Homo sapiens: one gene and its partners. The protein of the gene in region 4 interacts with the protein of the main gene of each other region in a pairwise test. Each region holds a gene or a part of one and is shown on either strand. Other genes may lie near its edges. The genes, in order: PTN, SGTB, GSC2 and ASPH.

Region 1 (7,035 bases), on a different chromosome or scaffold from region 4:
TCTGGACAAATGACATTTGGGAAGTCTGCATAAGTACTCACTGCAGTCACTCCAGCCCTGCTTCATGCCTTCCAAAAACCATATGACAACAGGCAGAGATTTCCATGATCTGGAAAGGGCAGCCTGAACCCTAGACTCACCACCTGCAGGTCCAGCCTGTACCTGGCCATCCTGAAGTTGGAGATAACTATTTCTATGGACAACTCCAGCAGTGGCCAAAAAGCCAGGCCTGTGAAAAATAAAGTCCTTTCTGGCCACCAGCAGGAAACCAGCCAATCTCCATCACCTTCTGCAGATTTTTTTTTTCTACTTTTATTTATTATGAGCATTTCTTACATGGTCATTTTTCTGAATCTCTCCTTACAATTTCTCTGGCAGTATGAATTTTCAGGACCACCTTAGAGTTAAAATATATGAGTAGAGGCCAAGAAGGTATTTGAATTTAGAGTTCATTGAGTCCCATTGTATTAGTTGGCTATAGCTCCTATAACAAAGTACCACAGAGTTGGTGGCTTAAACAACAGAAATTTATTTATTTATTGTCTTGCAGTTCTGGAAGCTACAAGCCTAAGATCAAGGCATCTGTAGGGCTGATTTCTTCTGAAGGTTCTCCCTATGGCTTGTAGATGGCATTCTTCTCCCTCTGTCTTCACACAGTCTTCTCTCTATGTATTTCTGTGTCCTAATCTCCCTTCTTATAAACACACCAGCTGCACTGGATTAGGGCCTACCCTTGTGACTGCATTTTATCTCAATTACCTCTTTAAAGACCCTGTCTCCAATACAGTGACATTGTGAGGGGGTTAAAACTTCAGCATATGAATTTGGGAAAACACAATTCAGACAATAACATCCATGATGAAAGAGTTTATTTCCCTCAGTTGGGATCCTTGTATGTATGAATTCATGGCCATAATGATTGTTTTTACCTTCTCCAGCAAGAGAGCAGAGCCTGACTTTCTGGGAGATACAGATCTCTGTCATTTAAAAATTCTGTGATGAATGTAGTTGGTAACCAAATTGAACTCAAAAAATATAAAGGCTCTGAAAACAAATGCAGAACCCATTAAGTTATGCAGTGAATAAAGGGAAAATGTAAAATAATTTTCCTGATTTTGTGAAAACTATATTTCAGATAATCTGGGAGAAGTTTGATTTAAAATTGTCTCCGTCATAAACATTCTGAGTTTGTTTTTCTTGTCAGGATACAGTTCCAATTAAGAGTGTGGAATATATGGTCATCATACAACTGTCTTTGCTGGTTTCTTTTGCTATGTTATTTATTTGGGTTAGGAGACTGTACCAATCCCCTCATCTATGCAGAGGACTTCAATTTGCACTCACAGGCTGCCTGCTTCAAAGTATTTTTAAAGTATTTTTGTGACTCTCAGTGTAGGGGAGTTTTTCAGTCACTTTCTTAAGGTAATTCACCTAATATTTCCTTCTGGAAAATGTGGGTTTTCCAGATCTTACCTGAGTCCATCAATCCATTAAAATTGTGGTATAATGGCAAGGACTTACCTTGAGGTTTGGGCTTGGTCAGTTTGCCACAGGGCTTGGAGATGGTGACAGTCTTCTGGCATTCGGCATTGTGCAGGGCTCGCTTCAGACTTCCAGTTCTGGTCTTCAGGGCTGTGTTCAGGTCACATTCTCCCCAGGCCTGGAACTGGTATTTGCACTCCGCTAAAGGCAGGGTAGAACCAAACAGAAATCCTTGAAAGATCCTATCGTACTTCCAGGATAATAAAGGCACACTTTTGTTTGTAACTTTTTTATTGAAATAATTATAGATCCATATGCAGCTATAAGAAATAATACAGAGTGTATGCGTGTGTATTGATTTCTGTTCAATTCTATCACATGTGTAGATGCATACGATCACCATCAATATACACCATTAATACACACTAATATACACTATTAATATACAGTCCCAATACAACAGTGGGTCATTCTTTATAGTCATGGCCTAGCCACCTTCCTCCTTCCCCACCTCCTTAATCCCCGGCAACTCCTTATCTGTTCTCTAGCTCTATCATTTTTCTAGCTTAAAAATGTTGCATAAATGGAATTCTACAATATGTAAACTTCTGAGATTGGCTTTTTTATTTAGCATAATTTCCTGAAGATCCATCCAAGTCATGTGCATCAATAGTCTGTTTCTTCCTATTGCTGAGTAGTATTCCATGGTCCCAATGTACCCCAGTTTGTTTAACCATTCATCAGCTGAAGGACATCCGAGTTGTTACCAGCCTTGGGTTACTACAAATAGAACTGCTATATAAATTCATGTATAGGTTTTTGTGGAAACATCAGTTTTCATTTCTCTGAGATAAATTACCAAGAAACTGCTGTGTTACATGGTAAATGCATGTTTCATTTCGTAAAAAACTGCAATACTCTTTTTCCACTGTGGCTGTACCACCTTACAATTTCCACTGGCAACATATGAGGGATCTGGTTTCTTGGCACCCTCACTAGCATTTCGTCTTGTCACTATTTTTTATTCTAGCCACTTTGATAGATGTAGAGTGATATCTCATTATGGTTTCAATTTCTAGTTCCCTAATAAGGAAAAGATGCTGAATATATTTTCAGGAGTTCATTTGTTGCCTATATATCCTCTTTGGTAAAATGTCTGTTAATGTTTTTTCCCCACTTTCTTATTGAACTGTTAGGTTTTGTTTGTTTTGTTTTTTGTTGTTGTTGTTTTGTTGTTTACTGTTGAGTTTGAGAGTTATTTAATATTCTCAATGTAAGTCTTTAAGATATACCTTTTAAACTTTTTGTAAGTGGGTTTTTAAGGTGCCCATATACAATTTAAGACCAAATGTACCTGTTCTCCATCACACTTTTATAGAACTTGTCTATATCCATTCAAATAAAAAATACCCCAAAGATTACAGAGGGAGAAAAAGACATACATGTATACATCCATTATCCTTCCTCACTTGTCTATGGGCCACAATGCATTTCCATAGAACACAGATAGGACATTTCAGGCATCATGTCCCACTATGGCTAAGAAAGACAAAAAGTCTGGATTGTGGAAGAGGTTATTTGAGGGTTCAATACTGGATATAAAGTTGAAAGTGTTGAGAGATCCTGTCTCAGATAGATAGATCAGGCCAGCATAAGACTGACTCCAGTCAGTGGGAGAAAGATTTATGAAACGTGGCTGTGAGCAGCCCTGCTGAACTCAGTAAGTGAATCTGTGAAACTGTGTGGAGGTTGGGGAGGGATCAAATGGGAGAGAAGGTCTGAAAGTGACAGGGAGAAACATGGAGAAGCAGGAGAATAAATAAGAAAAGGGGAAAGGAAAAATCAAAGGAACTTAGAAATAGAAGAAAGGAGAGAGAAGACAGATCAATTAACATTATTCAGAGGAATCAAGGATATATTTTATGTCCCTTTGGAAAGGCAGTGGTTCCCAACCAGGGATGATTTTGACCAACAGGGTACATTTGGCCATAGATATTTGGAGACATTTTTAGTTTTCACATCTGGAGCGGGTGAGGAATGCTACCGGAAACTAGCGAGTAGAAGCCAGCGATGCTCCTAAATACCCTAAAATGCACAAGACAGCCTCCACAACAAATAATTGCCTGGCCTGAAATGGGACCAGTCTGGTCACTTTGTGTCTGGTAAGATAAAGTTATTTAAAATAAAAAGTACTTATCCTTAAAAAGACATTTGGTGGAAAAATTTGAGAATTATCTCAGAGTAGGAGATTAACTCAGTAGCATGAGGCTTACCGCCAAATTGCTTCTTCCAGTTGCAGGGGATCTTACATCTCTGGGTCTTCATGGTTTGCTTGCACTCAGCTCCAGTCCGAGTGCCCTCCCGTGTGCCCAGCCCACAGTCTCCACTGGTGGGCACACACACACTCCACTGCCATTCTCCACAGTCAGACTTCTTCACTTTTTTTTCTGAATGAAAGGAGGAAAACCTAATCAACATACAGAAAACTCCTTAACTTCCAGATATAACCAAGTTCATTCCTGAGCACCTTAATTGCAGGATCTGTGTTTTTTAATCTGTATCCTTATTGTCTAATGAATAGTAGAAACATGATGAATATTAACCAAATTATTGAACCAATGAATGATCAAGAGAAGAGAGAAAGAAAACTGAGAAAAGAGCTAAAACTAATATTAATTGAACTCCCTCTTACTATGTGCCAGAGACTGTGCTAAGTGATTTAGTGGCATCTCCTTTTAGAAGCAAACATTTCTATAAAAGAAGAGATGGTCAAAAATATAGTTCTCCTAAAAATGAAGAAAATATTCTATTAGAAATAACAGTTGTCAGCTGGGCAAAGTGGCTCATGCCTGTAATCCCAGCACTTTGGGAGGTCGAAGCAGGCAGATCACAAGGTCAAAAGATCGAGACCATCCTGGCTAACATGGTGAAACCCCAACTCTACTAAAAATACAAAAATTAGCTGGGCGTGGTGGTGCATGCCTGCAGCCCCAGCTACTCGGGAAGCTGAGGCAGGAGAATCACTTGAACCGGGAGACAGAGGATACAGTGAGTTGAGATCGCACCACTGCACTCCAACCTGGTGACAGAGCGAGACTCCAACTCAAAAAAAAAAAAAAAGAAATAACAGTTGTCAAATGAGCCATTTCAGTGTAAGTTGTTGTTCCTTTCTCTGCCTTGTAGAAGGAATGACATCATACAAATATGGTGCATCACAGATTTAAACAGACTGTCAGTTCCACAGCCTACTTATGACTTTGGGAGTGGCATAGAGAAGGTGCTTTATCTTCTCTGTGCTTGTTTCCTCCTCTGTAAATCTGAAATTAAGGAGAAAAACAAGTTGCAGTGCATTTTTTTTTTTTTGAGGTAGAGAGGTAAATAATAAAGCACCTGATTACCGGTCAATGTTCTATACATAGTAGCTGCTAATTTGATCATTATATTAATGATCATCATCGTCATGCAATCCAAGACTTACAATGGGAGAAAAATAAGACAGGATATTTCTTAGGTTCCTCTAAGTAATTATTTTTGAAAAGGGAAGATTGAAGGAATAGAGGAATAGGAAGGGAGAGAGGCAGAGTAGAAGAGAGGAAGGAAAAGCAGGTAATTAGACTAGATGGACATTAATCAATGAAGCATCTTGCCTTCAGAACCCTACTGCTTACCTGGTTTCTCTTTCTTCCCTGCTTCAGCAGTATCCACAGCTGCCAGTATGAAAATGAATGCCAAGAAGGCAGCTGCAAATTTTCGACGCTGCTGCTGGTACTGTTGAGCCTGCATTCTAGGAATAAACAGAGAAAGAGAAGAAGGTGGCATTAACCTAAGTCAGAAAGGAAGATTCATTGAACCCTTGATGAAAAGGCTCCACTTTCCATTTCTGGAATGTTAGATTTCAGGAAGATTCATATCAATTATCTTGGGTAGAATTTTATCTATTCTTACCAACAGCCATTGAAATAAGTGCTCTTCTGCAATCAATCACGTATTCACTGACAAAACGCAACAGTTCTTCACTTAAGACTTCACAACCATTTGCTAAGTATGACTCAGAAATTATGGAAGCAAAAGAACTTTGAAGGCATGCATTTGAACACAGTCCTACTGTCTTGCTGATAGCATCACTTGGTAATATCGACAACTACAGCCATCTTCAAAATTCCTGACAATATTAGAAACAACCACAGCAATGATACTGCTGTACACAAGACCAATTTGAGTAGACATGATGAATGAATTACCTATACAAGTATATGTTTACTGTTTCTATTTAGACGCATACACAACAACCAACATCTCTGATCTTTTTAAAATCATTGTCATAATCATCACTATCATCTTATTATTCCATTATTTATTGATCTAACAAAGAGTGAATCCCAGAAGTAGAGCTAGCACACCTGTGATACATATCAAACACAATGATAAATTCGCATGTGCTAAAAATCCTCTAATCTTAGGATATGGTGAAGTCTTTACACTCACTCATAATAGGAAATGCTCACATTTGATGTGAATCAAAAATCCCAAGATATCATTAGAAAGACTCTCCTAGAACTTGAAGCCACCTGTGACAGCCTAGTGTCAATATGGTCACTTGGCCAAAACACCCTTGAGAAAGTTTCAGTCCAAGCTCCAGGACGACCCACTTCCCAATGGCTACACCATATCATGGCTGCAGCAACTTGCCTGGCAGTTATTGAGCTCCATCTGCTGTGTTAGTGGTGTGTTATACTTCACATAAAAATGGTTGTAATGTCCTATGATCATAGGCTGATAATTTTTTTTCCAGAGGTAGTACTAGATTAGTTTAGGTGTTTCAACATTCTCTTTAGTGTGAACAATAAAACGTTTCATGTATATAAGGGGTTGAGATTATTCTTTTCTCTAATTTATTTTCCTCATTGAAAAATATCTGAGATGATATCCTTGCCCGTGAATTTTTCTCCTTTTCTGTGGCATTGTATATGCTGTCTCTTATTAGTGTTTTTTTAAATTTATTTATTTTTAATTTTACTTTAAGTTCCAAGATACATGTGCAGAATGTGCAGGTTTGTTACACAGGTATACATGTGCCATGATGGTTTGCTGCACTTATTGACTGGTCCTCTAAGTTCCCTCCCCTTACCCCACACCCCTCAACAGGTCCTGGTGTGTGATGTTCCCCTCCCTGTGTCCATGTCTTCTCAATGTTCAACTCCCAGTTATGAGTGAGAACATGCGGTGTTTGGTTTCCTGTTCCTGTGTTAGTTTGCTGTGGATGATGGCCTCCAGCTTCACTCATGTCCCTGCAAAGGACATGATCTCATTCCTTGTTATGGTTGCCTAGTATTCCATTGTATATATGTACCAAATTTTCTTTATCCAGTCTATCATTGATAAGCTTTTGGGTTGGTTCAATGGCTTTGCTATGTAATAGTGCTGCAATAAACCTATGTGTGCCTGTGTCTTTATATTAAAATAATTCATATTCCTTTGGGTATATACTCAGTAATGGGATGGCTGGATCAAATGGTATTTCTGGTTCTAGATCCTCAAGGAATCACCACACCG
Region 2 (4,717 bases), on a different chromosome or scaffold from region 4:
AATTACTGTAATGGTTTGTGTCTGTATTTGTATATTATACCTACAAACATACATATCTTTCAGCTACTGAACACATCAGAATTGGTTTTACTTTTTAGGTTGTTGATTTTTTTTAATTAACTATTAACTAAGAATAATACTTATTTTCTAATTATAAGCCAAAAACCCCTGGGTTTTTTTCTCATTGATTAAGCCACTTATTTTTATAAGGTATATTTAAATAATTCCCATCTTCTGATATGATTTTAAACTCTAAATCATGTGTTACTGTTACAAAACTTTCTCTCTCCATGTAATCACACTTAGTTATGAGCAAAGCAGTGAGAAAGTTGAGGTGATAAACAACTTTGCAGCATTAATGTAACAAAAAGTTTCAGTATTTGTCAGGAAAACAAAAGCTTAGGCTGTTAAATAAAAGCTATTCTATTTTGGTAAGTTGAAATTCAAGAATGTATATATAATTTCTTAAATGTAAGAGTGCATTAAATCAAATACAAAAATTGGTTTTTCAATGCATCATTATTTATTGCCATAACAAATTGTTTGGTCCAAAATGAAAGCTATATTCAGAAGGTTTGCACCTCAAAATTGAGTAATAATTAATGAAATGTCTGTACAAAATAAAGTGCAAGCAGTGTAAAATTGAAGTCTGTCTTTGTTTCAAAATGATTAAGATTAAATGATGAAATAATATTTTATAGCCACTGCATTGGATACTTGGATTGTTTTTCAAGCATCTTCTTATGACTAAATCTTCTGTTTCATTCTGTTTTAAATCTAAAAAGTAAAATGATGGTCACTTGGAATCTGCTCTATATTTTAATTATAGTCTCTTCTGTTTATAAACAATAACTTACACATATTTTTCATAGTTTTAAGTAAAGATTAAATAATGCCATCTTAGAAAGGATCTGTTTAACCTATATTATAAAAGTTAGATACACAATTTGGTACATTAAATGAAAATGTCATTTGCATATATAGAACCTGTTCTGTTTTACACAGTATCATAATAGCTACAGCTACTACAAGAAATATGGTTAATGGAAGTCAAACATTTAGTACGATGCTTAAAGAGTTACTTTAATAATGCCCTCTTATTTTTCTAGTTAGATAGCAACTATATTTCCCAGACAAGCAAGAAAATATATGGGGCATTTTTTATAAATTTAAAAGTAGCTAGCACAATCCAACCACGCAACTTTTTTTGAAATAGCTTGCAATGCTATGATTCCAAAGTGATCAAGGTACTTGAAGAGCAAAAATGGCTTGAATAGAATGGAAATGTAGGCAAGTGGACAGATAGCATCTAGATTGAATTTGTTACAGGTGGTATATTAGCAAAGAAATAGAAAAATGAAATGGAAGAAATATACCAATTCCCATTATTTCATGTAAAAAGAATGGCTAATTTAACTACAGATGTTAGCACATGAAGACATTGTTTTAAAGTTTTTTTTCTTATAGTATCTTTGTCTGGGTAATACTGGTCAAATAAAATGAGTTGGGAAGTATTTCCTCCTCTTCTGTTTCCTGGAAGAGATTGTTTAGAATTGATATTATTTCTCCCTTAAGTGTTTGGTAAAATTCATCACGGAAGTTATCTGGGCCTGTAGTTTTCTTTACTGGAAGGTTTTTAACTTAACCACAAACTCAATTTCCTTAATAAATATGGTTCTGTTTAGGTTATCTGTTTCTACAGTGAGCTTTCTAGTTTGTATCCTATAGGGAATCTGTTTCATCTAAGTTGTTAAATATACAATCCTTGAGTTGGTCATGGTGTTTTCTAGTTAGCCTTTTAATAACTATAGTGTCTGTAGTGTATTCCCTTTCATTTCTGACACTGAATTTGTATCTTCTGTTTTTCTAGGCAGTCAGCTAGAAGCTTATCTTATTGCTCTAAAAGCATTTTTAATGCACTCAAGATAGTTATGCTAGAAACTTTAACTTCTTATTCAACACTGAATATGAGTGACTAATTTTTAATTAAGGATCTATTTTGCTTTTTATATCACAGTAATGACTTCTATGTGTTAGTAGTAGTACTTCGTTCTGTGTAATACTGGAATACTAGGAGTTCATTCTAACTTAATGAAAATCAAAGTTGGCTTAGATGGAATATGAATTTAACTTCTGAGGGCCGAAGACTTAAATTGTGCTCTTTTTAAATTCTGCAGAACTATATATCTTCATACAGATCTTCGTTGTAGCTTTGTTTGGCCCAGGTGCTTAGGTGTTTGCAGGTCTGAGAAACCTCTAACCTAGTGTTCCTCTAAATTAGAGTCCTTGGATCTGTATCAAAACCACCTAGTGTACTGTTTAAAAATGGCCATTCCTAGGCCTTATTACAGGACCTACTGTATCAGAATTGAACACGTGGCCCTGAATCTGCATCTTTAATGAATTATCCAGGTGATTCTTACAATGAAGTTATAGAACTACTGTTCTAATGTCACAAAGGAGAAAGAGAAAAGTTGGATTTTAAACTTCAAGATACAAAATAATTAGTCTCTTAGTCTCTTTTTCTTTTTTTTTTTTTTTTTGAAATGGAGTCTTGCTCTGTCACCCAGGCTGGAGTGCAGTGGCGCAATCTTGGCTCACTGCAACCTCTGCCTCTCAGGTTCGAGCAATTCTCATGCTTCAGCCTCCCAAGTAGCTGGGACTACGGGTGCCCGCCACCAAGCCAGGCTAATTTTTGTATTTTCAGTAGAGGTGGGTTTCACCATGTTGGCCAGGCTGGTCTCAAACTCCTGACCTCAGGTGATCCCCCCTGCCTTGGCCTCCCAAAGTGCTGGGATTACAGGCATGAGCCACAGCGCCCGGCCAATTAGTCTTTTGATAAGGGTTCTATAAGGCCTAATCATCTGCATTATTACTCATTTAATTGTATATTACTTCCTGGCCAGGCACAGTGGCTCACACCTCTAATCCCAGCACTTTGAGGGGCCAAGATGGGCAGATCACTTGAGGTCAGGAGTTCGAGACCAGCCTGGCCGATACGGTGGAACTCTCTCCATTAAAAACAAAAATTAGCGGCCAGGCACGGTGGCTCACGCCTGTAATCCCAGCATTTGGGAGGCCAAGGCAGGCGGATCACGAGGTCAAGAGATTGAGACAATCCTGGCAAACATGGTGAAACCCCGTCTCTACTAAAAATACAAAAATTAGCTGGGCATGGTGACACGTGCCTGTAATCCCAGCTACTCAGGAGGCTGAGGCAGGAGAATCACTTGAACCCGGGAGGCAGAGGTTGCAGTGAGCCGCGATTGCGCCACTGCACTCCAGCCTGGCGACAGAGAGAGACTCCATCTCAAGAAAAAAAAAAAAAAAATTAGCTGGGCGTGGTGGTGGGCGCCCGTAATCCCAGCTACTTGGGAGCTTAAGGCTCGAGAATCACTTGAATCCAGGAGGTGGAGGTTGCAGTGAGCTGACATTGCAACACCACTCTAGCCTGGCAAAAGAGTAAGACTCCATCTCAAAAAAACCCCACAAAATTTATATTACTTCCTTTTTCAGTTTTCCCTCGTAAAACTTGTGAAGTCATTACATGTCAGCACCAATTTCATTATTAATAAACAAAAAATATACTCTAGTTGGAATTAAACTCTCATCATCAATGTAGTTAGACCCATGCAATTAATACCTAATGCCCCTTTTCTCCACTAACTAATATGGCATCTAATTTATAATAAAATATTTTAAGTCTCCTGTTATATTTAAATTGCATCAAATTTAAATTATGTTAATTATAAGACTGGCATGCCAAGCCAAATTATCACAGAAGATTACATGAACAAGCAATGTTAGTGATAGATGCTTTTTGTTATCCATCAAATAATTACTAAGTTTTCTTTTTAAAAAAAATCAGTGTTTATGGGCACACAATTAAATACCATTTAGAAAATCCTTAACTTAGGACCAGGTCACTGGCTTAGTTAAAGTATATTTATATTTGATAGTTTCCAAGGTAAGGTTACCATTGGGGAAATTGTGATAATTAAGTCAAACAGTTGTACCACTGACCTAACCAGTACATTAAGGATTTCTAAATGTATCTTATTGTGTATTTAGCATAAGTGGCCATGCTAATATTATCAATACCAAACTGCAGACAAGATTAGTTAAGAACTATGCAGAAAACCTGAGCATCCTACCTTTACTTTCTATACATTCGCATTACCAATTTTTTCTTTTCAAAACATCCCTTGCATCAAGTGCTACTTTCTAACAGCTCTTAAGATTCTCTGTTCACCAGAACAAGCAACATTAAAGATAACATTGGTTCCCATGTTATATATTCATTACTAATAGCACTTATCAAAGCTAAACCTAGATAATATTCCTTCTTTCCTGACATACTGCTCAGTGGCAAGTACACTTCTTCTCAACCAGCATAGGAAACCTTTCCTTTGGGTCATTTCCCTTCTCAAAAAACTTTGCTTAAGGGAAATTGGAGCTAAAGAGCTTACCAACAAATAGCCCTACTAGAGTTCAATAAATATGCTTTGCTATTAAGTCTAATATACAAATATGATAGAAGTTTGAAAATGGAACCTTATCCCAGTGCTATATTGGCACGTAACATGGCTAGTGATCATTTCAAAAGGAGTCATGTTATGTTTTGAGTTTGTTTGTGATAAACCTATTGTCTAAACAGATTTATTCTTTAAGAATATACACAAGAGGTTTTCCTCCATTATTTTCACACATCAGATAT
Region 3 (7,094 bases), on a different chromosome or scaffold from region 4:
AAGATAAACCGGGAAGAGGGTGAAGATGAGAAGCGAGCGCCTGGGTGTGAGCGTGAAGGATGCCTATGTTAATAGCCTGCTGTGGGGGGTCAGCCTGCCAAGGAGCAGCTAGAGCTCAAGAAGCAAATTCAGGAGAGCAACACAGCCACTGAGCCCTGGAAGGTGGCGCTCCACAAGCTCTGATCGGGGCTCCCAAAACAATGACAGATGGCCATTCAACCAAGGAACTCAAGGGGCCTGGAGCCTGTGAGATGCGAGTGTCCCCAGCTGCAAGGGAGCTGACTGGGACACGGGCATGTCCACAGGTAGTCTGTTCAGTCCCCAAGGGCAAGACCAGGGTTCAGGGAGAAGGGCTTTGTGTGCATGCTAGGGGTGGAGGCGGGGATGCTAGGGACACCCAGCAGTGTCAGGGCAGTTCTGACTGGGGACACCATGCTTGCTTGGTGTTATCCAAGCTGGCCAGCCTTGGGGTGTCTGGGGAGCTGCAGCCCTGGCTTCTGCAGTCCTGCTTTTAGAGATGGACTTCATCTCTTGCAGGTAGAATGGCCCCATTCCCTGCAGGGCCTGTAAGGAGACAGAACGAGGTGCTCAAGCCAGCTGGGGGTGGGGATGTGAGATGCTTTGGACCCACTGTAGGGCCTACTTGGGGAATCTAAGGCTTCTTTCCACTGTGCCTTTTGCCATGGGCCAGGATAAAGAAGGGGAGGGCAGGCATCTTCCCAGGCAGCAGGGGCGGGGTCTCCCCAGTCCAACCTCCTCTTGCCCTACCCTAGGATGGCACAGATTGCTGTGAGGGAGTCCGAGCCCACAGCATGAAAACCCCAGGAGGAAGCAGGGGACCCTCACCCATGGGCAGGTTCACAGTAGCCTAGAGGCCAGGGCTGGACCCCAGGGGTCCAAGGCCACCATCCGTGGAGCAGTCCCCTCTGCTGGGGAGCACCCTGGTGCAGAGACTGAGGATCGCTGAGCTGTGCTCCTCTCAAAGACAGCTGTACCCTAAATACCCCCTCGCTGGGAAGGAAGAAGAAGGGACAGCTCCTTGTTGGGTGTGGGAGTGGAGCCAAGGTGGACTTGAGACTCTGGGCGGCTTCTGTGGTATTTGAAGTTGCTAGTTTCTCAGTATCAGCGCGAGGCTCGAAGGTGAAGGGACTGTGGAGGGGCTCCTGGAATCGCTCCTGCGACCTTCTTATTCTACAGGTCCAGATACCAAGACCCAGCCCAGGGCCTGGGAAGCCTGCAACGCCAGGACTGCACAGACACGAACCCCATCCCCTCTCCCGCTGGGGGAGGACGAGCCAGGTCAAGTTAGGTCAATGTCCACATTGAGAAGAGGGTGGCCAGCATGTCCCAGGGTGCGGAGAGACGCTCCACTGCGTAGGATTCTGGGTCCCGTGTTGATACGGGGTGGTTCCCCTCCTGCGGTGGAGTTAGTGTCTCTCGGGGGGTAGGGAGCTGAGGAAACTGCTCTATGCCCCAGCCCACCCCCAAGGGACTCGCCACTCCCACTGCCGTGGAACACCAAGCACCGGGGGCCCGTCCCCAGCGCCACGGCAGCACGAGCTGCAGGAGGCAAGGGCTGTGGAGACGGGTGGAGGCGGCCGGTGTACTCTCCCAGCTCCTTTTCGGGTAGACCTGTCTTCTCTCAGCGCCAACTCCAAAGATCCCAAAAAGGGTGGCCGAGCCCAGGGGCAGCTCCTAGAGTCATCAGCAGCTCCCCTTCGGGGACTTCTTGACGCCGGGCAGGAGCCTCGCGGAAGCCGACGCGCGCTTCTGGTGTCGCCATTTGGCCCGGCGGTTCTTGAACCAGACCTGGGGATGGGGGGAATGCTCAGCCCTAGCCCCAGGTCCTGCGTCCCACCGGCTCCCGAGGGTCCCACAGGGACCGAGAGGGGAGCTTCGCAACAGGGATGTGGGCGGACGGCGCTGTAGAGCCGACACCCGGGCCGCGGCTGCGCGCCACCTGCCCTTATTCGCTGCGGACAGACTCGGTGGGTCTGGACGCGAGATGGGAACCCCCTTAGTACCCGCCCCAGCCTCCAGCTGGCGGCGACCAGGACGCCCCTTCTTGGGTTGCGGGCTCTTCTGAATTTCCCAAATTCTGGACGTGAACGCGGGCCTCTTTCGTCACCAGAGGAAAGTGTAAAACAAAAGAAAAGAAAAGTAGCCCTCCGGTTCCTTTCCCGCGGCACCTCCCTGCTCTCACCCGCTCCTCATACCCCCGGACGCCCAGCGCCGTCCAGGGACCTCCTCCCTCCGGCGCGCCAGGGCGGGGCTTGGGCCGAGGCCGTCTTTGCAAAGGGCGCCCGCCCGCCAGGACCCCAGTCCAGTGTAGCCGCGGCCCGCGCGCTCCGGGGAAAGGCTGGGCGGGGCACTCACCTCCACGCGCTCCTCGCGAAGGCGGATGCGGCCGGCCAGGCGCTCGCGCGTACTCACGTCAGGATACTGGTTCTGCACGAAAAGCGCCTCGAGCGCCTGCAGCTGCTCTTCGCTGAAGATGGTGCGGTGGCGCCTCGTGCGCCGCTGCGAACCCGGGCCGACCGCGCCCGGGAGCGCCCCGGAACCTCCGGCTGGCGCACCCAGAGACAAGGGCACCGCCGGTCCCAGCCTCAGCGGCCACGCCAGACGAGCGCCTGCGGAGCGAGGGCGCGGTGAGGCGCGGGGCTGGGGCCAAGCTCGGCACCCACTGCGCCGCGCCCCGGGCTCCGCCGGGCCCCGCGCCCCGCTCCGCGCCCACTCACCCAGCCCGGCGGCCGCCTCTGGGGGCCCGCAGGGCGCCGCGCGGGGGCCGCAGCAGCAGCAGCAGGCGCAGGGCGCAGCCTCGGGCGCCCCGGGCTCCTCTGGCTTCGCGGGGCTCTGGCGACCGGCGGGCTGCGGTGGGCAGGCGGCCCGGGCCGGGAGGCTCCGCTCGGGCAGGCTGGAGAGGATGTGCTCGATGGAGAAGGGGCAGGGCCGCCCGGCACCCCGGCGGCTCGCCGCGCCCCCAGCCGCTGCCGCCATGCCCGGCCCGGCCGGGGCGCCGCCGCCGCGGGAATATATACGTCGGGGAGGGAGCGCGCAGTAATCCCCGGGCCGGGCGTCCAGTCCACGCGGGTTAATCCCGCAGCGCCGGCCGCGAACGCGCTAATCCTCGACTGCGGCGGCCCTGCCTCCGCGCGCGGGGGCCGGGGGCGCTGCAGAGAGGGCCCCCTGTGCCCCCCACCCCGCCCCGCGTCCTCCTGCCCCACCCGCGCCCGCCGCTCAAGCTGGCAGGGCGACCTGCGGGGAAGGGGCGGAGGGCCGCCTCGCCGCCGCCCGCGGGGCCTGGCAGCCGCTCGGAGGGCGCCCCGACCCTGGCAGCTCCCCAGAGCGCGGCGGTGCCTCCCGGCCCAGCCTCTGGTGGCTCCCCCTCGTTCGGCTGGGCCTAATTCCTCGTCCCCTCTGGGGCCCTACTGCGGCGGCTCAGCACGCCTGCAGAAGCTCGGCCTAGCCGCCCACCCGAAACTCCTGGACCGCAGCCTCCATGGGGCCCAGCACCACCGGCAACCGCACGATCCCGCCGCGCTCGGGTCCCGAACCTGCCCGCCACCTCGGAGCCAGGGTCTCATGGCCCTGGAGGGCGTGAGAGCGCGGCAGGAAGCCTGGGCTGCCGGGTGCCCCCAGTTCTCCGTCTCCTCACCTGTGTCAAGGAGACCTCCCCGCCCCTTCCGAGGCCCCTCCTCGGTGCTTCAGAGCCGCCTGTCCTCCAGCTTTCCCACTGGTCCCAGAATCCCCGCGAAAACATCCAACACTGCACCTCGCCCTTCCCCGCACTGTCACTGCCCCCCAGAAGCTGTGGGCTCCCCCTCCTCGCTCTCCGCCCAGGCCAGTCCTCTGGCCACACCGTCCTCGGTCCCTTCTGCCACAGCGCAGGTGACCCGCACTTGGCTACATTGTTTCACCCTCAGTGAAGCGGCTCCTGGCAGCGGGACCGTCACTTCAGCTTAAGACCCTTTCCTCTTGACCTTTGAAAATACAGTATGGGACTCATAGCACAGAGAAACAGACGGCCTGGCTCATACTCCGTTGTCAATTTCTGGCCGTGTGACCTCCATAGGCGTCTTCAGCCTCTGGGCTTGGCTTTCCCAATCTGTAAAGTGTAGTGACTAGGTGTGAGACGGTTAGAACCTGGCCGCCTCCCCAGGGCAATGCGTATTCCTGCGCTCCTCCCGCCGCCAGCCCCTCTGCAAGACTCTGCCATCCCCACTCTGCTATCAGTGAAAGTGCTGTGGACATCACTGTGACCGAACCTGCTGATTTAATTTCTGTCACAAGAGCTCCCACATAGGTTTCCCAGGGGTAGTCTGGAGGCTCAGTGATGAGCTGCCACCTCCATGAGTGGCTCTGTCAACCCCTCCTCCACCCACCTCTTGGTGGTAGAATGGCTGCCACAGCCCCACACTTTTCATCTCCTCCCATGGCCCTTTGGATGGCCATGGATCCCTCCTCCCTCAGCAGACCTCCCTCACAGAACTGCATCTGGACCATCCTCCAAAATCAGAGTGCTGCTATGATGGGGGAGGCAGGGTCATTGGTCAGGAGAGCCAGCCCAACATTTGCTGAGCCCTCTTCCTCCTAGCCCTGGCCATTCCTTCATCCTTTCCCATTCTCACCCTCAATACCTATTCCAGCCTTGGAGCTCCAGACACCATCTTTGTGACAGTGACTCACAAGTGCACCTCCAGCCTGGCCTCTCTCTCTGCTCCACGCTCTTGTTTCTGGAGCCTGCTCCACATCTCCATCTCCACTACCAATAAAGTTCTCCCAGTCACCATGCCAGAAAGGAACTCAAGGTCTTCTCAAAATCCCTTTCTTACCCTATGTTCTCCACTTTTACAAATGGGCCACTGCCCACCTGTCCATCTCTAGTGCTCATTCTCTTCTACCTATTTGCCTCTGCGTGTGCCCTGCCTCTTTACCAGTCCACCTTGGTAAATGGCCCACTGTGGCACTTTTTCAAAAAGTTTATTTTCTATTTTGCATTATTTTTTGAGACAGGGTCTTGCTCTGTCACCCAGGCTGGAGTGCAGTGGTGTGATCATGGCTCACTGCAGCCTTGGCATCCTGAGCTCAAGTGATCCTCCTGCCTCAGCCTCCCAAGTAGCTGGGACTACAGGTGCACCACCATGCTCAGCTAATGTTTCTGTTTTGGGGGGGTTTTGCCACGTTGCCTAGGCTGGTCTCAAACTGCCGAGCTCAAGCAATCCGCCTGCCTTAGCCTCCCAAAGTGTTGGGATTACAGGCATGAGCCACCGTGCCTGCCTGGCCTGCCCCCCTCCCTTTTTTTTTTTTTTTTTTTTTTTTGAGACGGAGTCTCGCTCTGTCGTCCAGGCTGGAGTGCAGTGGCATGATCTCAGCTCACTGCAAGCTCCACCTCCCGGGTTCACGCCATTCTCCTGCCTCAGCCTCCCGAGTAGCTGGGACTACAGGCGCCTGCCACCATGCCCAGCTATTTTTTTTTTTTGTATTTTTATTAGAGACGGGGTTTCACCATGTTAGCCAGGATGGTCTCGATCTCCTGACCTTGTGATCTGCCCGCCTCGGCCTCCCAAAGTGCTGGGATTACACGCCCGGCCTTTTTTGTTTGTTTTTTTACTTTTGAGACAGGGTCTCGCTCTTTCACCCAGGCTGGAGTGCAGTGGGTGACCATAGCTCACTGCAGCCTCTGAACACCTGGGCTTAAGAGGTTCTCCCACCTCGGCCTCCCAAGTAGTTGGGAGCACAGGCACACGCCACCATGCCTGGCTAATTTAAAAAAAATTATAGATAGGGTCTCACTATGTTGCCCAGGCTGGTCTAGAACTTCTGACCTCAAGCAATCCACCTGCCTCAGCCTCCCAAAGCTCTGAGGTTACAGGTGTGAGCCACCGTGCCTGGCCACTCTGGCGCCTCTGAAACATGCTGGCAGGTTCTCTGATGCTGCTCCCTTTGGGAGTTTAATTGGGTTTCTTCCTGAAACATGGGCTGGCCTTCACGACTTGCTTGTAATCCATAGAATGCAGCAGAACTGACATCGTGTGGTTTCTGAGGCCAAGTCACACACAGAGTCACACAGATCAGATCAGCAACCCAACTCCTTCTCTCTCTCTCACACATCTTGGGATGCTTGATCTTTACACCCAGCCACCATGCTGTGAGGGGCACAGGCAGCCTCGGGAGAGGATAGGCGTGTTCCTGCCAGCAGCACCAGCTGAAGGACCCATCCACCCCCTGCACGGGTCACCTACAAGTGAGTGAGGAAGCCTTCCAGATGGCTCTGGCCCCGGCCACCATTGGACTGCAACCACAGGAGACACCAAAACTGAGAATCCCCTCCCTGAGCCCAGTCAAGCCCCATGACTATGAAATATAATAAAATAGATGATGCTGGGTGTTTTTACTGCACCAAGTTTGATGTGGTTTGTTATATAACTATAGATAAGCAGAACGGGATCTGGTACTGGAAGTGGGGTGGGTGCTGCTGATACAAAACCTAAATCATGTGACATTGGCTTTGGGATGGGGCAGTGTCCAGGAGCTGGGAGGACCTTGCAGAGGCTGACAGTGGGGACTTAGAGGAAAGTGAAGAAATTGTTACTGGAAGATGGAGGAAAGAAGACCATTGTTATGCAGTGGCAGGAAGTTTAGCAACATTGTCACCTGTAGCCAAATAGGAAATAGAAGCTAGATAGTATTCCCAAGAATAAAATGATCTAAGGACATACCCAGAGAGAAAGTTCAAGGTGCTACTTGGCTTCTTCTAGCTACCAATAATAAAAAGAAAGAAGATATGATTCAAAAAGCAAGATTTAGGGCCGGGCATGGAGGCTTACTCCTGTTATCCCAATGCTTTGGGAAGCTGAGGTGGGAGAATCACTTGAGGCCAGGAGTTCAAGACCAGCCTGGGCAACATAGCAAGACCCTCATCTCTATAAAGAAAAGTTTTTTCTTTAAGATGGAGTCTTGCTCTGTTGCCCAGGCTGGAGTGCAGTGGTGTAATCTCTGCTCACTGCAACCTCCGCCTCCTGGGTTCAAGCAATTTTCGTGCCTCAGCCTCCCGAGTAGCTGGGATTACAGGTGTGTGCCACCATGCCCAACTA
Region 4 (7,035 bases):
AGTTATTTCCTCTGTTCAATAAATACTGAAGGTCACAAACACCTTTTTACTTTTCAAGAGTTTGCCTTCTCTTCTCGATTTTAGTAATTAATTTGGATATTTTTCCTCCCATGCCTCTTCATCTGATTTAGTGGGATGTTTTCAATACCAGCAAAACAAAAGAACAGGAAAAGTATTTTGCAAACTCATCTACTGGAAGCTAATCTCCTTAAGGTCAAGCAAAAAGGGTCAATTTCAATTTCAAAGAGCTGTTCTTTAAATGAGATAAAGAAAGTCTCCTTTTGTTTTTAGATGGAAAAGAAAGCACAAGTTTTTTCTACCTGTGAATGAACTTTGGTGACCTATATGTGCCATTCATGCAGCATTTTTGTTCATATTGGCTTAGAATTCAGTGCATGAATATCATTACATTCTTATATCTAACATTCCTAGTTAGCTTTGATTCAAAATATACAAAATCTGATACATGAATACTTTGCTAGATTAATGACTTGATCATCTTTGGAATGAGTAGGCAAGACGATTTTTACCTATTATTTCTATGTTGTGGGTAATGTTAAAACTAAATACAGATGATAATAATTGCTATTTCACAGTGATGTTTAAAATGGCAGAGATTTCTCAAGCCAGAGAGATGGGACAGTCTTCCAAACTCTTTCATCAAAAAGGAAAGTAATCTGGACCTCCTACGCCCAAGAAAAACATCCTGGCATTCTTGGTAACCTTTTACTCTGCCATCCTTAATCTTTCTACAGAATTGTAGCAGAAATCATCTCCAAGACTGAAGAGCTGGCTTCCTGACATTCACATGGATCTACCATAGGCAAAGACACTGTGTTCCCAGCCCTTGCCTCATGGATGGCAAAGCCGCCAGGAGCCAGACACCCTAGCAGCCACCTATCCACCCAACCCTGAAAGAACATAGTTTTATTTCCGTGAACTATACTTTTTCCCCAGAAGCTCTAATAATTGGCATTAAAAAAATTTGCATCTGGGATTTTTATAACAATATAAAATAATTCCATGCTCTTTTTTCGGTGTGAAAAGTTCCTCTTTGAAAGAAATAGGATTTTGTCAATATCTCCACCACTAGCATAGTGAGAAGAGGATCTCAATCAAGATAAAAAAAACCAAACGATTTGAGAGTTGGGATGGGTACAGTTCATAGACACTGACATAATGAGCTCTTTCTTTTTTGTTAGGAAAATAAAACTGCTTTTTTCATGAGTATCTTTTACTAAGAAGAATTAAAAGAGGGAAGTCTGAGTTCCCCAGTAATGCTACCATTAAATAGCTAGAAGTAAAGCATTTATACAGCTTGTCATTAAAATAAACAAAAATGTAGTGGTACATGATGACAAAATAGTCTAGCTACACTAGAAAAATATAACTGCATAGAAAAATTACAAACTAAAGCAATCCATTCACAGTTTCTACATATGTTCTCATTATACATTGAATTAGACCTATTCTATGTGGAAAAAATATCTTTGGCTGGTAAGGTAGAAGCTATCAAATGTTCACCTTAAATACTGGCAGAAGACCAGTGCTGTCATGAGATGACACACAGCAGGGTGTTTCCTAAATGAATTGCAGCGAGGCAAATATTCCCTTTAGTGTCTTCTGACCCTAGGAGGAGGCTTTGAATTACTCGGGCTGCAAGTCAAGGGAATTGACTCTTGGTGTTCGAAATTCTATCCTCACACCCAAGGAGATGGAACCAGAAAGGCAGCCTCTCTCCAGAGTTTCCCAAGCTTGCATGAATTCATGCTAAATTGCTGGAAGGCTGCGTCTCTGCTGTGGTGTCAGTTCCGGATGCCACACATCCACGATGAATATCAGCCGGAAAGATGAGGCATCCTGCCATACCTCGTGCTCAAAGGAGTCATCAAAGATGAGCACCTTGCCTTCCTCCCAGGTCCTGCAGCAGAAAGACAAGGATTCCTGAATATAGTTTTGTGTGGTTCAGATGTCTGAGGATCGATTCCTGTCCATGTGCGAGAACTACCTTTGGTAACAACCTTTGGGACATAACCAAATAACTAGAACATCAAGCCCAAGTTTATTCTTCCCTTGATGATTAGGAAAGAATTTCAGAAATCTTGCTATGAACATCAGTTTTCATTGCTCAGTGCTGGAGATGTACAAACAACAGAGGATTTGTGATGAAGACATATTGGTCTCATTACATGCCTTGCAATTATTCTGTATATTATTACATGTCTTGCAATTATTCTGGTTTAGACATATGGGCAGTGACTGGGTCTCAGGCATCTCTATGCCTCTCAAGACACTTCCAATCAATTGTCTTTTCAGCTCACTCCACTTGTTCAAGTTTCATTTTATGGAAGAAAGGAATCTGCTTAAACACAGTACCATAAAGCAGAAAACTAAATTAGGAGTTTCCTAGCTAGTATTCCAGCTGAAGAAAATGGGCAGATTGGGAATAAATTTTGTTTATATTTTTAGTATCATCTTCTATGCAAGTGGGTTATCCATGGGATATTTTAAATCAATGCTGCAAAACACCCTATAGAGCTTCCAACTTTACCTCATAAGATATCTGTATAGGGACTGCGATCTAAATATAGTGTTAGTCTATTAAGAGAGAAACATACAGGAGGCAGTAACACAATGCTTTTCAAATCCAAAGAGAGTTTATGAGGGACACTGATGGTTCCTTATTTTAAAAATAGATATTAACTGCCAATATATTAAATACCAAGTTATGTTTTTAAAATAAAATTTTTGCTAGAAAATTTTCCTTAGATACTAAAATGCCACTTAAGCCTTCAAAATTTTACATCCTGGATTAGCAAATAATGACTATTATAGCATGGGAAATGCTAGCTTGATTTCAAGTTACTATATTATCATAAAGAGGTTTTCTGTGCGAAAACTAGTGGTGAATTTTTATGTTCCATATCAGGTGATTAACTAATATAAACTGAGCAATACTACATATATTGCAGGGCTTCACAACCGTGGTACTACTGACATCTAGGCTGGATCATTCTCTGTTGTAGGGGCTGTTCCATGCACTATGAGATATTTAGCGGCACCCCTGACCTCCACCCACTGTATGGCAGTAGCATTCCCTATACCATGAGGTTGGTGCAAAAGTAATTGTAGTTTTTGCCATAGTTGTGACAACCAGAAACATCTCTAGTCATTGCCAAATGTCCAGGGTGGGAGCAGGAGCAAAAATCATTCCAGTGGAAAATAACTGACATACTGAATAAGTCTGATAATAAAATTTCCAAGTTATGTAAACTAACAGATAAAGTACTGAGTATTTGCAAGTTGAAAGTTCACTGAAGTTGGGAACTGAACCTCTACTTCTACTACCCACCCTCCCACCTCCACCCAGTGTGCTATCTCATACACTTCGTGATATGGTTTGGATGTGTCCCCACCCAAATCTCATCTTGAATTGTACTCCCATAATTCCCACATGCTGTGGGAAGGACCCGATGAGAGATAATTTGAATCATGGGGGCAGCTTCCCCCATACTGTCCTCATCATAGTGAATAAGTATCATGAGATCTGATGGTTTCATCAGGGGTTCCCGCTTTTGCATCTTCCTTATTTTCTCTTGCCGCCACCAGGTAAGAAGTGCCTTTCAGCTGGATGCGGTGGCTCACGCCTGTAATCTCAGCACTTTGGGAGGCTGAGGACAGTGGATCACAAGGTCAGGGGTTCGAGGCCAGCCTGGCCAACATGGTGAAACCCCCATCTCCACTAAAAATACAAAAATTAGCCAGGCGTGGTAGCGCATGCCTGTAATCCCAGCTACTCAGGAGGCTGAGGCAGGAAATTGCTTGAACCTGGGAGGCAGAGGTTGCAGTGAGCTGAGATCATGCCACTGTGCTCCAGACTGAGTGACAGAGCAAGACTCCATCTCAAAAAAAAAAAAAAAAAAAAAGAAGTGCCTTTTGCCTCCCACCATGATTCTGAGTCCTCCCCAGCCATGTGGAACTGTAAGTGCAATTAAACTTCTTTTTCTTCTCAGTCTCAGGTATGTCTTTATCAGCTGCATGAAAACGGACTAATACACCTTGCCTCATCTCTTGCATTCAACACACACATGTTGATTGGCTCTTCTACAACTCCTCTGAAGGTTTTTAGAGTTCCATTGGAGTTCCATCAAGGGTAGCAAAAGACAGAAATCTATGGACTTAGGAGAAAATGACAGAATATGCATTCATTACCATGCAAAATCTAACTTGAGAAGAAAGGCAAAACCAAGGCGGGGAAATACGCTGACAAGAAAAATCAGTGAAACAGTCCACAGCTTCCACAGTTAGGCAGGCATTTTCTAGGTCTCAGTGTTGTCACCGGGATTAAGCAATGTCAGTGGGTACCACAAACGAGCCTATAATTTATGTAGAAGATGAGGGAGGAAGTGTACTCAAAATGAAAGGCAGTGCACCTATGTTCACAGCAGCACTATTCACAACAGCTAGAAGGTGAGAGCCACCCACGTATCTATCAGTGAATGAACAGACAAACAAAATGTGGTATACACATACAATGGAATATTAATTCAGCCTTAAAAAGGAAGGAAATTTTGACACATGCTACAACATGTATGAACTCAGAGGACATTATGTCAAGTAAAATAAGCCAGACACAAAAAGATAATTACTAGTTGATTCTACACATCTGAGGTCCTAGACTAGTAGTTAAATTCACAGAGAGAGAAAGGAGAAGAGTGGTTGCCAGTGGCCGGTGGGAGGACGGGAATGGGAGTTATTTAATGGGTATAGTTTCAGTTTTGCAAGTTAGAAAGAGTTTTGAGGATAGATCATGTTGATGGTTATACAATATGGATGTACTTAATGTCACTAAACTGCACACCTAAAAATGGATAATATGGTAAATTTTGTTATGTGTATTTTACTACAATTAAATAGAGAAAAAAGGGAAAGGCAAAGGAGAGCATGTGGTAGAGGAGAAAGAAAGAAGCAATACAGGAAGATGGAAATTTATGGTCTTTGAGGGGAATCCTCTTGACCTTGGCATTTATTACTTATGGGACCTAAGGTGAGCTACTTAGCATAATTGATTCTTTGTGTCTTCATCGGCATAATTGATGTGAGGATTAGCATATGATTGGCAATAGTAGATATTCAATTAATGACAGAAAAATGAAAATATAAAGAAAAATAGGGAAAAGATAAAAGACAGAGGTGAAATGTTGGGAAGTGGTATGTTATCAAAAATGACATATGCATCACTCTTTATGATGTTGTCTGCCTTCCTTTGAGACAACTAAAAACTTCCAAGGGAGATGAGATATAAAAACATCTTCAGAGCATCTGTGAAATGTAGTTTGTACAGCAATGACAAGTGATTTTCAAAGTTTTTTGGGTGGCAGAGAACCTGGAAACTACTTAAAACACTAGAAGTAATTAAAATAACTGAATAGAAAATTCTAGCCCACACAAAATGACATTTTTCACTAGATTATGATACGTATAACAAAGCCAAAGATCTAGAATTGTTTTCTGGGAAAAAGGCCTTAAGCATTCCATTCATTAAATTAAATTCCTGAGAACTGGGAAAAGTTATTAGCACCGGAACACGCTGGTCACTCATGGAACATCAGTGCATATAAAAGTAGAACTTAAGAACCACAGGCTTGCAGCTTTCCAGATACATTAAGTACAATACAGATCAGTGTAAACCATTAATTAACCAATTGTATAAATAAGAAATTTGGGGAGGTATACCAAAGGGTTGTTAATTGGCCTGTTTCAGGGTCATAAAACTCTATGGGGAAAGTGAGTGCTGTCGGACTTATTTGCCCTTCCACTTTCTTTCATACATTTCCCCAGAAAATAGCAAAGATAGTCAATAACATAATGTAGATTTTTTAATGTAGATTTCTTCTGAATTCTTAAAAAAATGGTGTCTTTCAATCAGTTATTAGAGATAGAATGACTAAAACTGTAGTCACGATTCACCTAAAAGGGGAAAATGAAGAACAATAAAACATCCTACAAGCCATGTCCAGACTTAAGTGACTCCAGGTTAAATTCGAGATGTATCACATGCTTGGGAAAGGATGTTTTTTTTCCACAACAAAGGGAGAGGAGCATAAAGATGTCAAATCGCTTCTGACTGAAAACCAAAGACTCTCATTAGAATGCAAAGAACTAGTTTTCAGGCCACTTGCTTTGTGAACAAAGCTCCATCAAATAAGATTAAGTTACACTCGAATTACGACATACAATCAGCCCTTTGGAGAAACAATCTTCAGAGCGGCCTGTGACAGAGGTCTGCCTGGAAGTACTGTTACAGCCTTGTCTAAGGACCCAGAGAAGCAGCATTGGGGGTGGGCACTGCTCTCCATCCCTGGAAGCTTGGCTCACTGTTGGAACTTCCTCCTTCCCTTCCTCTCTCTCTTTCTCTCCTCCCACCTAACCCTTTATTTTTTTCAAGACAGGATTTGCTCTGTCACCCAGGCTGGAGTGTGGTGGCACCATCACAGCTCAATGCAGCCTCCGCCTCCCAGGCTCAGGTGATCCTCCCACCTCAGTCTCCCGAGTACCTAGGACTACAGGTATGTGCCACCACATCCAGCTAATTTTTGGATTTTTTTGTAGAGATGGGGTTTCCCCATGTTGCCCAGGCTGCTCTCCAACTCCTGGGCTCAAACAATTCTCCTGCTTTGGCCTCTCAAAGAGTTGGGATTACAGGTGTGAGCCACTGTTCCTGGCCTTCTGTTAGAATTTCTTACCACTAAGAGAAGAAAGTCTCTCTCTGGGTTGTCAAAAGATATAAGAATATCTCGTCCTAAGATAAAACAGTATTCCATAATCTGTCAACTTCTCAAATTATTATAATTATAAATAATGATAATGATAAAATGGTGGCAGTGCATATTTAATAACTATAATTTGGTCACAGAATTACCATTGATATTAATAAGGCTAAGTAATGATACTAGGTGCTTATAGAGTCTTCTACCTACAAATTTTATAGATAATATCTTAGCTATCTTTGCTAAAATGTTCTGAGATAGGCAA

Evidence for each region.
Region 1: the proteins of ASPH (region 4) and PTN interact in binary tests that used the Homo sapiens proteins (3 or more experiments, as listed by UniProt).
Region 2: the proteins of ASPH (region 4) and SGTB interact in binary tests that used the Homo sapiens proteins (3 or more experiments, as listed by UniProt).
Region 3: the proteins of ASPH (region 4) and GSC2 interact in binary tests that used the Homo sapiens proteins (3 or more experiments, as listed by UniProt).

The regions. Positions count from the first base shown.
Region 1 is NC_000007.14:137,249,709-137,256,743, forward strand, and holds part of PTN (pleiotrophin isoform 1 precursor), read right to left. Parts: intron 5,267-7,035; 5' UTR 5,266-5,266; coding exon 5,151-5,265; intron 3,930-5,150; coding exon 3,756-3,929; intron 1,684-3,755; coding exon 1,522-1,683; intron 1-1,521.
Region 2 is NC_000005.10:65,665,428-65,670,144, forward strand, and holds the end of SGTB (small glutamine-rich tetratricopeptide repeat-containing protein beta), read right to left. Parts: 3' UTR 501-4,717; downstream 1-500. UniProt on the Homo sapiens protein: Co-chaperone that binds directly to HSC70 and HSP70 and regulates their ATPase activity.
Region 3 is NC_000022.11:19,147,287-19,154,380, forward strand, and holds the start of GSC2 (homeobox protein goosecoid-2), read right to left. Parts: upstream 3,007-7,094; 5' UTR 2,998-3,006; coding exon 2,739-2,997; intron 2,631-2,738; coding exon 2,377-2,630; intron 1,810-2,376; coding exon 1,705-1,809; 3' UTR 1-1,704. UniProt on the Homo sapiens protein: May have a role in development. May regulate its own transcription. May bind the bicoid consensus sequence TAATCC.
Region 4 is NC_000008.11:61,501,589-61,508,623, forward strand, and holds part of ASPH (aspartyl/asparaginyl beta-hydroxylase), read right to left. Parts: intron 1,922-7,035; coding exon 1,771-1,921; 3' UTR 1-1,770.